Regions from separate parts of the Homo sapiens genome. Here region 1 is linked to region 2. Evidence: fine-mapped QTL for protein levels in blood plasma. A gene starts in region 2. The other region holds a variant in brackets. All regions are shown on one strand. Distances are between the middles of the regions.

Region 1 (8,342 bases), 98 kb before region 2:
ACTCGGATCGGGGGACCTCCCTTGGGAGATCAATCCCCTGTCCTCCTGTTCTTTGCTCCGTGAGAAAGATCCACCTACGACCTCAGGTCCTCAGACCCACCAGCCCAAGGAACATCTCACCAATTTTAAATCAGGTAAGCGGCCTCTTCTTACTTTCTTCTCCAACTTCTCTCACTGTTCCTCAACCACTTTCTCCTTTCCACTCTTCAATCTCTCCCTTGTCTTAATTTCAATTCCTTTCATTTTCTGGGAGAGACAAAGGAGACATGTTTTATCCGTGGACCCAAAACTCCAGTGCCGGTCACGGACTGGGAAGGCAGCCTTCCCTTGGTGTTTAATAACTGCAGGGACACCTCTCTGATTATACACCCACGTTTCAAGGGTGTCAGACCACGCAGGGATGCCTGCCTTGGTCCTTCACCCTTAGCGGCAAGTCCCGCTTTTCTGGGGAAGGGGCAAGTACTTCAACCCCTTCTCTCCTTGTCTCTACCCCTTTTCTGCTTTCCTGGGGCAGGGGCAAGTACCCCTCAACCCCTTCTCCTTCACCCTTAGCGGCAAGTCCCACTTTCCTGGGGCAGGGGCAAGTACCCCTCAACCCCTTCTCTTTCACCCTTAGTGGCAAGTCCTGCTTTTCTAGGGGGCAAGAATCCCCAATCACTTATTTCTGCACCCCAACCTCGTATCTCTGTGCCCCGACCGCTTATTTCTGTGCCCCGACCCCTTATTTCCATGCCCCGACCCCTTATTTCTGAGTCCCATCCCTTATTTCCATGCCCCGACCTCTTATCTCTGCGCCCCAACCCCTTTTCCCACTTTTCTGGAAGGTAAGAACCCCCGAACCCCTTCCCTCCGTTTCTCTACTCTCTCTTTTCTCTAGGCTTGCTTCCTTCACTATAGGCAACCTTCCACCCTCCATTCCTCCTTCTACTCCCTTGGCCTGTGTTCTCAAAAACTTAAAACCTCTTCAACTCACACCTGGCCTAAAACCTAAATGCCTTATTTTCTTCTGCAATGCCGCTTGACCCCAATACAAACTCGTCAATAGTTCCAAATAGCCAGAAAATGGCACTTTGAATTTTTCCATCCTGCAAAATCCAAATAATTCCTGTCGTAAAATAGGCAAACGGTCTGAGGTGCCTGACGTCCAGGCATTCTTTTACACATCAGTCCCTTCCTAGTCTCTGTGCCCAGTGCAACTCGTCCCAAATCTTCCTTCTTTCCCTCCCACCTGTCCCCTCAGTACCAACCCCAAGCATAGCTGAGTCTTTCTAATCTTCCTTTTTTACAGACCCATCTGACCTCTCCCTTCCTCCCCAGGCTGCTCCTCGCCAGGCCGAGCTAGGTCCCAATTCTTCCTCAGCCTCTGCTCCTCCACCCTATAATCTTTTTATCACCTCCCCTCCTCACACCTGGTCCGGCTTACAGTTTCGTTCTGTGACTAGCCCTCCCCCACCTGCCCAGCAATTTACTCTTAAAAAGGTGGCTGGAGCCAAAGGCATAGTCAAGGTTAATGCTCCTTTTTCTTTATCCCAAATCAGATAGCGTTTAGGCTTTTTCATCAAATATAAAAATCCAGCCCAGTTCATTGCTCGTTTGGCAGCAACGCTGAGACGCTTTACAGCCCTAGACCCTAAAAGGTCAAAAGGCCATCTTATTCTCAATATACATTTTATTACCCAAATCTGCTCCCGACATTAAATAAAACTCCAAAAATTGGAATCTGGCCCTCAAACCCCACAACAGGACTTAATTAACCTCACCTTCAAGGTGTACAATAACAGAAAAAAGTTACAATTCCTTGCCTCCACTGTGAGACAAACCCCAGCCACATCTCCAGCACACAAGAACTTCCAAACGCCTGAACCGCAGCAGCCAGGCATTCCTCCAGAACCTCCTCCCCCAGGAGCTTGCTACATGTGCGGGAAATCTGGCCACTGGGCCAAGGAATGCCCGCAGCCTGGGATTCCTCCTAAGCCGCGTCCCATCTGTGTGGGACCCCACTGAAAATCAGACTGTTCAACTCACCTGGCAGCCACTCCCAGAGCCCCTGGAACTCTGGCCCAAGGCTCTCTGACTGACTCCTTCCCAGATCTTCTTGGCTTAGCGGCTGAAGACTGACACTGCCCAATCACCTCGGAAGCCCCCTAGACCATCACAGACGCCGAGCTTCGGGTAACTCTCACAGTGGAAGGTAAACCCGTCCCCTTCTTAATCAATACGGAGGCTACCCACTCCACATTACCTTCTTTTCAAGGGCCTGTTTCCCTTGCCTCCATAACTGTTGTGGGTATTGACAGCCAGGCTTCTAAACCTCTTAAAACTCCCCAACTCTAGTGCCAACTTAGGCAATACTCCTTTAAGCACTCCTTTTTAGTTGTCCCCACCTGCCCAGTTCCCTTATTAGGCCGAGACAGTTTAACTAAATTATCTGCTTCCCTGACGATTCCTGGACTACAGCCACATCTCATTGCCGTCCTTCTCCCCAACCCAAAGCCTCCTTCGCGTCTTCCTCTCATATCCCCCTACCTTAACCCACAAGTATGGGACATCTCTACTCCTTCCCTGGCAACTGATCACATGCCCATTACCATCCCATTAAAACCTAATCACCCTTACCCCACTCAACGCCAATATCCAATCCCTCAGCACGCTTTAAAAGGATTAAAGCCTGTTATCACTCGCCTGCTACAGCATGGGCTTCTAAAACCTATAAACTCTCCTTACCATTCCCCCATTTTACCTGTCCTAAAACCAGACAAGGCTTACAAGTTAGTTCAGAATCTGCGCCTTATCAACCAAATTGTTTTGCCTATCCACTCCATGGTGCCAAACCCATATACTCTCCTATCCTCAATACCTCCCTCTACTACCCATTATTCTGTTCTGGATCTCAAACATGCTTTCTTTACTATTCCTTTGCACCCTTCATCCCAGCCTCTCTTTGCCTTCACTTAGACTGACCCTGACACCCATTAGGCTCAGCAAATTACCTGGGCTGTACTGCCGCAAGGCTTCACAGACAGCCCCCATTACTTCAGTCAAGCCCAAATTTCATCCTCATCTGTTACCTATCTCGGCATAATTCTCACAAAAACACATGTGCTCTCCCTGCTGATCGTGTCTGATTAATCTCCCAAACCTCAATCCCTTACAAAAGAACAACTCCTTTCCTTCCTAGGCATGGTTAGTGCGGTCAGAATTCTTACACAAGAGCCAGGACC[A/G]CACCGTGTAGCCTTTCTGTCCAAACAACTTGACCTTACTGTTTTAGCCTAGCCCTCATGTCTGCGTGCAGCAGCTGCCACTGCTTTAATACTGTTAGAGGCCCTAAAAATCAAAAACTATGCTCAACTCACTCTCTACATTTCTCATAACTTCCAAAATCTATTTTCTTCCTCATACCTGACGCATATACTTTCTGCTCCCTGGCTCCTTCAGCTGTACTCACTCTTTAAGTCCCACAATTACCATTGTTCCTGGCCCAGACTTCAATCTGGCCTCCCACATTATTCTTGATACCACACCTGATCCCCATGACTGTATCTCTCTGATCCACCTGATATTCACCCCATTTCCCCGTATTTCCTTCTTTCCTATTCCTCACCCTGATCACGCTTGATTTATTGATGGCAGTTCCACCAGGCCTAATCGCCACACACCAGCAAAGGCAGGCTATGCTATAGTACAAGCCACTAGCCCGCCTCTCAGAACCTCTCATTTCCTTTCCGTCGTGGAAATCTATCCTCAAGGAAATAACTTCTCAGTGTTCCATTTGCTATTCTACTCCTCCTCAGGGATTATTCACGCCCCCTCCCTGCCCTACACATCAAGCTCGAGGATTTGCCCCCACCCAGGACTGGCAAATTAGCTTTACTCAACATGTCCCGAGTCAGGAAACTAAACTATTAGACCTCTTAGTCTAAATAGACACTTTCACTGAATAAGTAAAGGCCTTTCCTACAGGGTCTGAGAAGGCCACCACAGTAATTTCTTCCCTTCTGTCAGACATAATTCCTCAGTTTGGCCTTCCCATCTCTATACAGTCTGATAACAGACCAGCCTTTATTAGTCAAATCAGCCAAGCAGTTTTTCAGGCTCTTAGTATTCAGTGAAACCTTTATATCCCTTACGGTCCTCAAGAAAAGTAGAACGGACTAAAGGGTCTTTTAAAAACACATCTCACCAAGCTCAGCCAACAACTTAAAAAGGACTGGACAATACTTTTACCACTTTCTCTTCTCAGAATTCAGGCTTGTCCTCAGAATGCTACAAGGTGTACAGGAGCCCATTTAAGCTCCTGTATAGACGCTCCTTTTTATTAGGCCCCAGTCTCATTTGACACCAGACCAACTTAGACTGTGCCCCCAAAAAAACTTGTCATCCCTACTATCTTTTGTCTAGTCATACTCCTATTCACCATTCTCAACTACTCATACATGCCCTGCTCTTGTTTATACTGCTGGTTTACACTGTTTCTCCAAGCCATCACAGATATCTCCTGCTGCTATCCCCAAACTGCCACTCTAAACTCTTGAAGTAAATAAATAATCTTTGCTGGCAGGACTATGCTGAATCTCCTTAGGCACTCTCTAATCAGATGTCCTAGGTCCTCCCAATTCTTAGACCTTTTATACCTGTTTTTCTCCTTCTCTTATTCCATTTAGTTTTTCAATTCATACAAAACCGTATCCAGGCCATCACCAATCATTCTGTACGACAAATGTTTCTTCTAACAACCCCAAAATATCACCCCTTACCACAAGACCTCCCTTCAGCTTAATCTCTCCCACTCTAGGTTCCCACGCCGCCCCTAATCCCGCTTGAAGCAGCCCTGAGAAACATCGCCCATTCTCTCTCCATACCACCCCCAAAAATTTTCGCCGCCCCAACACTTCAACAGTATTTTGTTTTATTTTTCTTATTAATATAAGAAGGCAGGAATGTCAGGCCTCTGAGCCCAAGCCAAGCCAACGCATCCCCTGTGACTTGCACATATACACCCAGATGGCCTGAAGTAACTGAAGAATCACAAAAGAAGTGGAAAGGCCCTGCCCCGCCTTAACTGATGACATTCCACCATTGTGATTTGTTCCTGCCCCACCTTAACTGAGTGATTAACCCTGTGAATTTCCTACTCCTGGCTCAGAAGCTCCCCCACTGAGCACCTTGTGACCCCTGCCCCTGCCCACCAGAGAACAACCCCCTTTGACTGTAATTTTCCATTACCTTCCCAAATCCTATAAAACGGCCCCACCCCTATCTCCCTTCGCTGACTCAGCCCACCTGCACCCAGGTGAAATAAACAGCCATGTTGCTCACACAAAGCCTGTTTGGTGGTCTCTTCACACAGACGCGCATGAAAGTCTCGATCTCCTGACCTCATGATCTGCCCTCCTTGGCCTCCCAAAGTGCTACAATTACAGGCGTGAGCCACCGTGCCCGGCCGACACTCTCTTAAATTAATCACTTTGAATAGTAAAGTTAAAAAAAAAAAATCACCAGCTCATATTAAAAAGCCATTTATGGGCTGGGCACGGTGGCTCATGCCTGTAATCCTAGGACTTTGGGAGGCCGAGATGGGCAGATCACGAGGCCAAGAGATCGAGACCATCCTGGCCAACACGGTGAAGCCCCGTGTCTACTAAAAATACACAAATTAACCAGGTGTGGTGGCGCGTGCCTGTAGTCTCAGCTACTCTGGAGGCTGAGGCAGGAGAATCGCTTGAACCCAGGAGGTGGAGGTTGCAGTGAGCCAAGATCACACCACTGCACTCCAGCCTGGTGACAGCGAGATTCCGTCTCAAAAAAAAAAAAAAAAAACTCATTCATAATCCGACCTTTACCTCCTTTACCTAAATATGTTCAGCTTCACCTGTCTCTCATTCCAGCCTGTTATTTCTCAGCTTTACTGAACTTATATCCATATTCCTCAGAGATGAATGAATTTTCATGCTTTCATGTCTTTTTTCTTCTCACCCAGAATGCTCCTTATTTTCTCTCCGAGTCGTGGACTCTATGCCTGCTCATGTGTCAAGACGTAGCTCAACTTCCAACTTCACTAAAATTATCAACCTCACGGTGGGTTCTCAGCTAGAGTTAGGCCTTCCCATAGCTCTAAATCTCTAGCACTTAACAGACAATATTTTAGATAGTTGGTTTTGCATTCATTGTCTTTATTGGAGTGAAAGCTTTCTAAAGAAAAGGAAGGTACCTAAATATTTAACAGATGTATCAATACCTAAGACTAGACTATGCAAGTGGCTCTCCTGGGTGAATTAATAAATACTCAAATAAATACTTGAATGAAGAGAAGAGCCAAGGAGCACCCACACCAGAATATTCGAGAAAAGTATTTGATAAGATCATTTTGCAAGAGTTTATGAGGTATATCCAGGAAACACATATTAAATGCTATTTGACCACAGATTCCATAAAATTATGCAGAGAACAAAAGAATTATAGATCAAGAACTTCTCCAACAGTTTCTGATGATCTGGTGAAGAAATCAATGTCCACAGTCATGAAATAATAAAAAATAATTCAATATATGACAATTATGAAATTAATTATGAAATTAATAAAATCTTATTAAATTATGAAATTAATAAAATCTGAATCAAAAATCCAAGGGGATTTTTTTATTAATTCTTGACAGAATGAAGTTAATTGGGAAGATCAAAAACAGACGAGCACAATCTCAATAAAAAATCACAGCAGGTATTTGTGTGGTAATTGATAATCTTATACTAAAATTTATATAAAAATCCAAAGACCCAGGAATAGCCAAGGCAACCTTGCAGAAGAATAAAGCTACAGGGCTTATATTACCAGTGAGTAAGATCTATTTTAAAGTTTTAGTAATTAAGACATTTTTGGTATTTGCACAAGAATAGTTAAATTGATAAATGAGATAGAATAGAGACTGGGCATGGAGGCCCATACCTGTAATCTCAGCACTTTGAGAGGTGGAGGCAGGTGGATCGCTTGAGCCCCAGGAGTTTCAGACCAGCCTGAGAAACATGTCAAGGTTCTATATCTACAAAACAAAAACAAAAACAAACAAAAAAAACACAACAATTAGCTCAGGCGTGGTGGCATGTGCCTGTAGTCCCAGCTACTCCAGAGGCTGAAGTGGGAGAATTGCTTGAGCCCAGGAGGTTGAGGCTGCAGTGAGCTGTGACTGCACCACTGCACTCCATCCTGGGTGACAGAGTGAGACTCTGTCTCAAAAAAAAAAAAAAAAATACAGTGGTTACAGTCTTCCACATACATGGCTGCCTGATTTGTGACATACAAAAAAATCATATTTGCTGCCCTTTTGTATGTGTCTTCCTCCATTCAACCTTGTTAGTGAGATTCATCCATATCGTCAAATATAGTTTTAAATCATTCATGCTCATTGCTGTGTAATATTCATTCATACAGTGTGCATCTCTTAGGCAGTGGAGAAAAGACAGGCATCTTAATCAATGGTTCTGGGTCAGTTGGATACCCATATGAAAGGATATATTTTATCCTTCTACCTCACATCATACACAAAAATCAATTGATAGCATTAGGAGATATACCTAATGTAAATGACGAGTTAATGGGTGCAGCACACCAGCATGGCACATGTATACATATGTAACAAACCTGCACGTTGTGCACATGTACCCTAGAACTTAAACTATAATTAAAAAAATCAATTGCAAGTGGATTGCACATCTAAATCTGAAGATAAGAAACATTAAGCTTATATAAGAAAACATGATTATGATATTGGAGACGACAAAGATTTCTTAAACATGTTACCAAAAATGCAACCGTAAGAGAAAAAAGTAATGTATTAGATTGTATTAAAACGTTAATGGTGTCATCAAAGGACACAAAAGAGTGAAAAGGCAACCCAAAGAGTAAAAGATGATATTTACAACATACATATCTAACAATGAACACAAATCCCAACTATATGAAGATCTCCTAGTAGTCAGTTTTTTTTTAAAGCAACTCAATAAAAAGAAGGCAAAAAACTTGAAGATACAGTTACATAGATATAAAAATGACCAATAAAGCTACAAAAATGTGTATGGCCTGATGAGTCATCATGAAAATGGAAATTCAAACCTCAGTATCACTCACACTAGAATAGCTAAATAAATAAGACAGAAAGTACTAAGTGTGGGTAAGGGTGTAGGCAACTGGACATCTTAAATACTGCTAATGGGATTGTAAATTACTACAACCACTCTGGAAAGCTATCTGTGAGTATCTGCTATAAAGAATATATACATACTCTGTGACCCAGTAATTCTACTCCCAGGAATAGATTGAACAGAAGTGCATACATATGCTCACCAATGAAT
Region 2 (8,335 bases):
GTAATTTATAGATTCAGTGCTATTCCCATCAAGCTACCATTGACTTTCTTTGCAGAATTAGAAAAAACTACTTTAAATTTCATATGAAACCAAAAAAGACCCCATATAGCCAAGACATTCCTAAGCAAAAAGATCAAAGCTGGAGGCATCATGCTACCTGACTTCAAACTATGCAACAAGCCTACAATAACAAAAACAGCAAGGTACTGGTACCAAAACAGACATATAGACCAATGGAACAGAACAGAGCCTCAGAAATAACACCACAAATCTACAACCATGTGATCTTTGACAAATCTGACAAGAACAAGCAATGCGGAAAGGGCTCCCTATTTAATAAATAGTGTTGGGAAAACTGGCTAGCCATATACAGAAAACTGAAACTGGACCCCTTCCTTACACCTTATACAAAAATTAACTCAAGATGGATTAAAGACTTAAAGGCAAGACATAAAACCATAAAAACCCTAGAAGAAAACCCAGGCAATACCATTCAGGAGATAAGCATGAGCAAAGTCTTCATGACTAAAACACCAAAAGCAATGGCAACAAAAGCCAAAATTGACAAGCGGGATCTAATTAAACTAAAGAGCTTCTTCACAGCAAAAGAAACTATCGTCAGAGTGAACAGGCAACCTACAGAATGGGACAAAATTTTTGCAATCTATCCACCCAACAAAGGGCTAATATCCAGAATCTACAAGGACCTTAAAAACATTTACAAGAAAAAAAAATCCCATCAAAAAGTGAGTGAAGGATATGAACAGACACTTCTCAAAAGAAGACATTTATGTGATCAACAAACATATGAAAAAAAGCTCATCATCACTGGTCATTAGAGAAATGCAAATCATAACCACAATGAGATACCATCACATGCCAGTTAGAATGTCAATCATTAAAAAGTCAGGAAACAACAGATGCTGGAAAGGATGTAGAGAAATAGGAACACTTTTACACTGTTGGTGGGAGGAGTATAAATTAGTTCAACCGTTGTGGAAGACAGTGTGGTGATTCCTCAAGGATCTAGAATCAGAAATACCATTTGACCCAACAATCCCATTACCGGGTATATAAGGATTATAAATCATTCTATTGTAAAGAAACATGTACACGTTATGTTTACTGCAGCACTATTTGCAATAGCAAAGACTTCAACCAACCCAAATGCCCATCAATAATAGACTGGATAAAGAAAACGTGGCATATATACACCATGGAATACTATGCAGCCATAAAAAGGAATGAGTTCATGTCCGTTGCAGGGACGTGGATGAAGCTGGAAGCCATCACTCTCAGCAAACTAACACAGGAACAGAAAACCAAACACTGCATGCTCTCACTCGTAAGTGGGAGTTGAACAATGAGTACACATGGAAACAGGGAGGGGAACATCACACACTGGGGCCTGTCGGTGGATGGCAGGCAAGGGGAGGGAGAGCATTAGGACAAATACCTAATGTAGATGACGAGTTGATGGGTGCAGCAAACCACCATGGCACATGTATACCTATGTAACAAACCTGCACGCTCTGCACATGTATCTCAGAACTTAAAGAATAATAATAAAAATAAAAGATACCTTTTCCAATTAAAAAAAAGAAAAAAAACTCTTTAGAAGTCAATATTTTGTTTTCACAAGGGGGGATCCATTTCCTGCCCATCACTCAGGATCATTCCTGATCAAGGCCCCTCATTCATCAGGCACCAAATCACAGGCAAGAAATTGGTCTACTCTACTTCATTGCTGAAAAGAAAGCCTCCAAGAAAGAAAGAGAAAAAGCCCTTGAAGCTGCCCCTGCTTGCTAGGGATGGCCAGTGAGCTGGATGAAACAGCTGCAGAGCTTGGATATCTAAAGATTGATTTTATTTATTTCCACTGAGCCACTGAGGTTTTTCAGGTGTAGAGTAAATCCAAAGCCCATTAACTCCAAAGCCATTTTTCAAGGAAAACACAAAAATGAATAATCGCTTGCTGATAATTCCTTTAAATTCCCGCCAGAGTTATGAAATTATTCTTACTACAGAAACAATCATTAAACCACGTCAGACAAACACCTCTGAGGTCAATAATATTCCAAATTTATTCTGCCGAGAATTTTTTAAAACTTCGTATCTGCCACATGTGCAACTCAGGCATTCTTGGAAACCATCCCTGCGGTAGCATATCTTTACTTGGAAGCAGTGGGAAAACTTGGAAGAATATTTGGAGAAATATCCAGACTCTGAGGTCTTTCCAGCATTCCCAATCTGCCCTTCTTTTTTTTTTTTTTTTGAGACACAGTCTCACTCTGTTGCCCAGGTTGGAGTGCAGTGGCATGATCTCTGCCCATTGCAACCTTTGTCTCCTGTGTTCAAGCAATTCTCATGCCTCAGCTTCCTGAGTAGCTGAGACTACAAACACCATCCACCATGGCTGGCTAATTTTTTGTATTTTTAGTAAAGACAGGTTTTCACCATGTTGGCCAGGCTGGTCTTGAACTCCTGACCTCAAGTGATCTGCCTGCCTCAGTCTCCCAAAGTGCTGGGATTACAAGTGTGAGCCACTGTACCCGGCCCTATTTCCTAATAATAAAAAACAGTAACTTCTACTCACTGAGTACCTACAGTGATTTAGTCATTCTTCTAAGCAGTTTAGATACATGAACTCATTTAATTCACACGACAATTCCCTAAAGTACACATGATTAGTATCCTGCTCTTACCCTAGCAGAGAGTGGTTAAGTAAGTTGTCCATGGTATCACAGCTAGTCAGTCACAGAGCCATCATCCAAATGCAGATATCCTGAATTCAGGTTCTACATTAGACTAACCCACCAGGAATGGAGCAGGAAAGAACAGGGAAGACTCCACATTTTTGGCCTCTATTTGGTAATTATAGTTAACTTTTTAGGTAATTATAGACCAATTATCCTAGATGGGCACTTAGAGACTTTGCAGGACAGCAAGAGCTGTCTCTAATCCTGTGCCCATGACAGACATCACCAGTCAACCACAACACAGTATTTAACTAACGCAAGTCAACTCCTCAGAATCTTTAACATTCTTGTTTGTGCTACTGTACCAATCAATCAATTTGATATGAGAGTGTGCAGGAAAAAACAGGAAACAGGTTTGCAGTACCTCCACACCAGTATTCAATGCTGTAATCCGCTGCAGTGACTCCATTAAAGACTTTGCCTCCCTTATACCCTCTCCAACTAGGGTGCCTAGTGTTATGAACAAAGGGATATGTATAGGTTCTTGTGTTGCCTCTCTCTTTGATATTTTTAGCCATCAGATACCTTGTCTGCAATGTGTGCTCAGAGAGTGAGGGGGGAACTAGATGATTGATTTTCCAAATGTGTTCCCTAAATGTGTTCCCTGGGGAATAAGGGCACGAGAGGCTGCCTATTCTATTTCAAACAAATCCCCTTCACTACAGTGTATTTGATGAGTTGGGGTTTGTTTTAATTCCATTTGGAAAAGGGCTTTAGCAGCTAAGCAAATGGTTTTAAAGTGCCTCAGAAGTCAAGATTAATAGAAACTATCCAGTTCTGATGTCCTATCATGCTAAAATTTCAGGGACTAAGATTCTGTGATCATTACATTGAAACACAGCAGCAAAGCTGTGGTGTGTTGTCCTTCCTGGTTCAGAGATGCAACTATGTGCAGGGCTGCTGAGCTCTCTCTGCATCTGGGTGGGAGCCTAATGGAAGTTTTGGGGCTCCTTCCTGGTCTCCAAAATCCTCAAGACCACCATGTGAACACAGGAATCAAGGAAGGTTCTTAGATCGACTCATCCCCCAGGCCTTTGGTTTCCTTGCTCCTTTCCCCAACTACAGGTGTTTCATTTCAACTCATCCCCTAGGGCCTTGGTTTTCTTGCTCTCTTCCCCCACTACAGATGTTTAACTTCATTTCATAACCACATATTCCCCTCCTTTTCCAAGGCAAGATCCAGATGGATTAAAAAATGTACCAAGTCCCTCCTACTAGCTTGCCTCTCTTCTGTTCTGCTTGACTTCCTAGGATCTGGAATCTGGTCAGCAATCAGGAATCCCTTCATCGTGACCCCCGCATGGGCAAAGGCTTCCCTGGAATCTCCCACACTGTCTGCTCCCTATAAAAGGCAGGCAGATGGGCCAGAGGAGCAGAGAGGCTGAGACCAACCCAGAAACCACCACCTCTCACGCCAAAGCTCACACCTTCAGCCTCCAACATGAAGGTCTCCGCAGCACTTCTGTGGCTGCTGCTCATAGCAGCTGCCTTCAGCCCCCAGGGGCTCGCTGGGCCAGGTAAGCCCCCCAACTCCTTACAGGAAAGGTAAGGTAACCACCTCCAGAGCTACTAGGTCAGCAAGAATCTTTACAGACTCACTGCAAATTCTCCATTTGAAAAATAGGGAAACAGGTTTTGTGGGTGGACAAGAAATGCCTCAACCTCACATCCAGTCACTGGAAGAGCCAGAACTAGAAAGCTCCCGAGTCTTTTCCCCACATTCAAGAGGGTTGCTGGGTGCATCCATACCCAGCTATCCTTACAGTGTTTGGGAATGGGGAATGGCTCTGTCTTACTGTGGGCATGGTGGGCATTTTTGGCAGTGGGAGAGAAGGAAAATCTGTTGATTAGAAGCTCAGTATGTTAATTCGACTCCAGGACAGCTTTCAGAGACAGTGGCTAAGAGAAGAACGAGGTCCCAGGGGGATCTCTTGAGGTGACTTATTTTGACACTCTTTGGGAAAGTTATCTAGGAGATTTGTTCCATAACTCATTTTCCCATACTCTGGTGACAAATTTACTGAGTGTATCGGTCCCACTGAGCCAGTGCATAGCATGGTAACAAACAGTTCTAAATTATCAATGACTTAACAGAATTAACTAAATTAACAAAAGTTACTTTCTCACTTGTACTAAATATCTATAATGTATGGGCTCAGGCTTCTGCATTTTATACTCAGGATTCTAGACTGATGGAGAAGTTGCCCATGTGGGGGAACATTGATGGATACTGTGATAAAGCAGAAGAAAGCTCTCAGGAGTCTTGCATAGGCAATGCACTGTGGCTCAAAAATGACACCCATCACTTTGTCTCCTTCTTTATTGATCAAAACTAATTAATGCCTCCAACCAAACAAAAGTGGCCAAGAAATGCAAGTCTACCTTGTGTCTCAAAACAGAGGATGGAGAATATTTGGTGAAAATTACCATGACCATCACATGGCCACGTAGGTCTTTATAATGACAGAGCTAGCATTTGTCACATTGACCAAGCTTTGTCCATACACTCTACAGTAATGATGAGTCCTCAGTGCACAGGGGAGGATGCTGAAGACACAGGACAGCATCCTCCAGACACATAAGACTTCAGAGCAGAGGGATTCTCCCTCCACCTCTCGCAATTCCTTGCTTTCTCCTAACTTCCTTTACAAAGTCATGCTTGGAAATGTCTATGTATCATCATGTGGCTCATTTTTTTCTCTGTTCATTTTTTTTCCCCAAAATTCAGCTTCTGTCCCAACCACCTGCTGCTTTAACCTGGCCAATAGGAAGATACCCCTTCAGCGACTAGAGAGCTACAGGAGAATCACCAGTGGCAAATGTCCCCAGAAAGCTGTGATGTAAGTAAATAAAGTTCACCCTCCCCTAGACAAAAAAATAATGTCTAGGGCACAGAGTCAAGAACTGTGTCACAGTTGCTGGGAGTCATAGACTCTGATAGTTTGACCTCTATGGTCCAATTCATTAATTTTCACAAGTGAGTGTTCACTCCCAGCTCCCTGCCTGGGAGATTGCTGTAGTCATATCAATTTCTTCAAGTCAAGAGCAAAGATGGTTTTACTGGGCCTTTAAGAGCAGCAACTAACCCAAGAGTCTCATCCTTCCTCCTCTCCGTAGCAACCCTTTGTCCAGGGGCAGATGGTCCTTAAATATTTAGGGTCAAATGGGCAGAATTTTCAAAAACAATCCTTCCAATTGCATCCTGTATCTCCCACAGCTTCAAGACCAAACTGGCCAAGGATATCTGTGCCGACCCCAAGAAGAAGTGGGTGCAGGATTCCATGAAGTATCTGGACCAAAAATCTCCAACTCCAAAGCCATAAATAATCACCATTTTTGAAACCAAACCAGAGCCTGAGTGTTGCCTAATTTGTTTTCCCTTCTTACAATGCATTCTGAGGTAACCTCATTATCAGTCCAAAGGGCATGGGTTTTATTATATATATATATTTTTTTTTTTAAAAAAAAAACGTATTGCATTTAATTTATTGAGGCTTTAAAACTTATCCTCCATGAATATCAGTTATTTTTAAACTGTAAAGCTTTGTGCAGATTCTTTACCCCCTGGGAGCCCCAATTCGATCCCCTGTCACGTGTGGGCAATGTTCCCCCTCTCCTCTCTTCCTCCCTGGAATCTTGTAAAGGTCCTGGCAAAGATGATCAGTATGAAAATGTCATTGTTCTTGTGAACCCAAAGTGTGACTCATTAAATGGAAGTAAATGTTGTTTTAGGAATACATAAAGTATGTGCATATTTTATTATAGTCACTAGTTGTAATTTTTTTGTGGGAAATCCACACTGAGCTGAGGGGGACAAAGATGGCTGTGGCCAAGAGGGGCTTGGTTAAGGGGGTGGGAACTATGTCCCTGGGAAATGAGTTTTTGGCTTAGCTGGTCTTCATTGAAATGCAGGGTGAAACTGACAAACCCATTCCAGCCCTCTATTCCCATTTTCAACAGTATTTCCCAGACCCCAAACTTCAGCCACGAAAATATCTGGAGCTTTGCCACCATTCCTTTCCTCCCCACCTCATACTTGCCTCTCCTGGGACCTATTTTAACAGCCCTGTGGTATCTCCCTCTACCCGACCCTGCTCCTCGGTCTTCCAACCCAGACTAGGCAGACATGACAGACACTGGAAATCAGAGGAAGGCTAGGTGACCTTTGACCAGAGGTTTAGGTGCAGGTTTTACAGGTGTGGTGGAGCTTAAAGTGGGTCTTGTGCATGCACAAAGTGGAGAGGCTCTGCTGGAGGTATTTCAGTCTAGGTAGAGGAGAAGGGGTGTTGCTTGGGCAAAATCCAAGAAGTAGGAATGATCATGCTGCATTTACCCAGTTGGGTGGGAGCCCATCAAAAGATGTCAGTGTTGGAGTATGTGTGAAATGGTGGGGAAATTTGGAAAGAAGTTTGAGACCAGGCTGTCTAGGTGGGGAGTTTGTGCTCCATGTAAGGTGAACATATGGTTCTTCCCAGCCCAGTTAGGATGCTTTTGAGAGCAGAAAAGTGGTATTATTCATAATTATTCTGGAACAACGGATATAAATTAACACTGTCCTAAGCAAACTGGAGCATGTGGTCACTCTAGGAATAGAATGCATTGCAAGTTTTGATTCAGTGGAGAGAAGTGCCATGACCACACTATGAGGGGCTTCAGGAAGGGCAGCCAGGTGGCCATGGGCTGAATTGGGAGGAGAAGGGAGAAGCACTTAGCTCACTATTGCAGTGTATGGAAGATATGGAACTGGGGCATTGGTAGTTGGGAGGGGAGAAGATAATTGGAAGAATGGCTGAGGCAGGGTGGAATGCCAAATGTTGTGGTTGAAGAAGTAGAACCAATGACATGGAAACTTTCTAAATGCCAAAGCTGCAATTAAAGGTTAGCTTCTTAGACCCAGAAAATTAATTTCTCTCTGTCACTGTTTACTCACACCTTAACTTTACTAGCTTGAGAGCTTTCAATCAAATGGACAGGACCTCATCTTCCTGTATAAGCAACTTAAATCAGGATTCCCTTTCAGCATACAAAATCAGCTTGCGTTTCCATTGGTCACATTACCTATGTACCTGAACGCAGAGACCAACTATGTCCCCAAGGGTAGAAAAGGGTCACAGGTGCCCTGCTGGTATAACTCTGCATGGTCTAAGGCCATTGATCTGGAGGGCCAATGGCCTACTGTGTCATGCATGCCCAGCAGGGTCGCTGCATGCAAAGCTCCCAGAGGCACCATTCATAAGGCTGTCCCCCTTGGACTGTGTGGTGGCAATGGCACAAGGCAATATAAAGAACAGAATGAGACATTAGGAAGGGCACTGATCTAGGAGGCAGATGACCTCAGTTTCATCACAGACAGAGAACTGGTCTCTGTCACTGTGTTACTTTTGGCTTTAGTTACCCCATCCATAATAGGGGTATATTAATATCTTTTAAGGGATCTGACCAATGACCCACCAAGATCTCCTGTTCTGAGAGCACTACCTCTTGGAAAGCATCACTACCTCCACCCATTGAGGGAGGGAATGTTGTCAGAGGGTTCCACACTCACAAGCCCAAGTCGGACAGGGGCCAGGATAACT

Which allele goes with the higher level. Alleles are on the strand shown, and positions count from the first base shown. The strength of an association depends on the size of the effect and on how common the allele is.
For the plasma level of the protein whose gene starts at base 4,134 in region 2, G is the high allele of the variant in region 1 and A is the other (weak association).

The links. A credible set is the group of variants that fine-mapping cannot tell apart. PIP is the chance, under the fine-mapping model, that this variant and not a neighbour inherited with it causes the effect. The UK Biobank Pharma Proteomics Project read protein levels with antibody pairs (Olink). The fine-mapping took linkage between variants from a reference panel, not from the people measured, so its PIPs are less certain.
Region 1: its variant is the best candidate, but not a certain one, in a credible set for the plasma level of the CCL11 protein (UK Biobank, PIP 0.51).

What each region holds. Positions count from the first base shown.
Region 1 is chr17:34,183,636-34,191,977 of GRCh38, forward strand. No RefSeq gene overlaps it. Among named protein-coding and RNA genes, the nearest start is that of LINC01989, 4.2 kb to the left of the region's middle. The variant A/G (reference allele first, on the strand shown) is at 3,222.
Region 2 is chr17:34,281,609-34,289,943 of GRCh38, forward strand. CCL11 (C-C motif chemokine ligand 11) reads left to right here and starts at 4,134. Exons shown (of 3, transcript NM_002986.3): 1 at 4,134-4,276; 2 at 5,488-5,599; 3 at 5,977-6,726. The coding sequence starts at 4,201. The coding sequence ends at 6,082.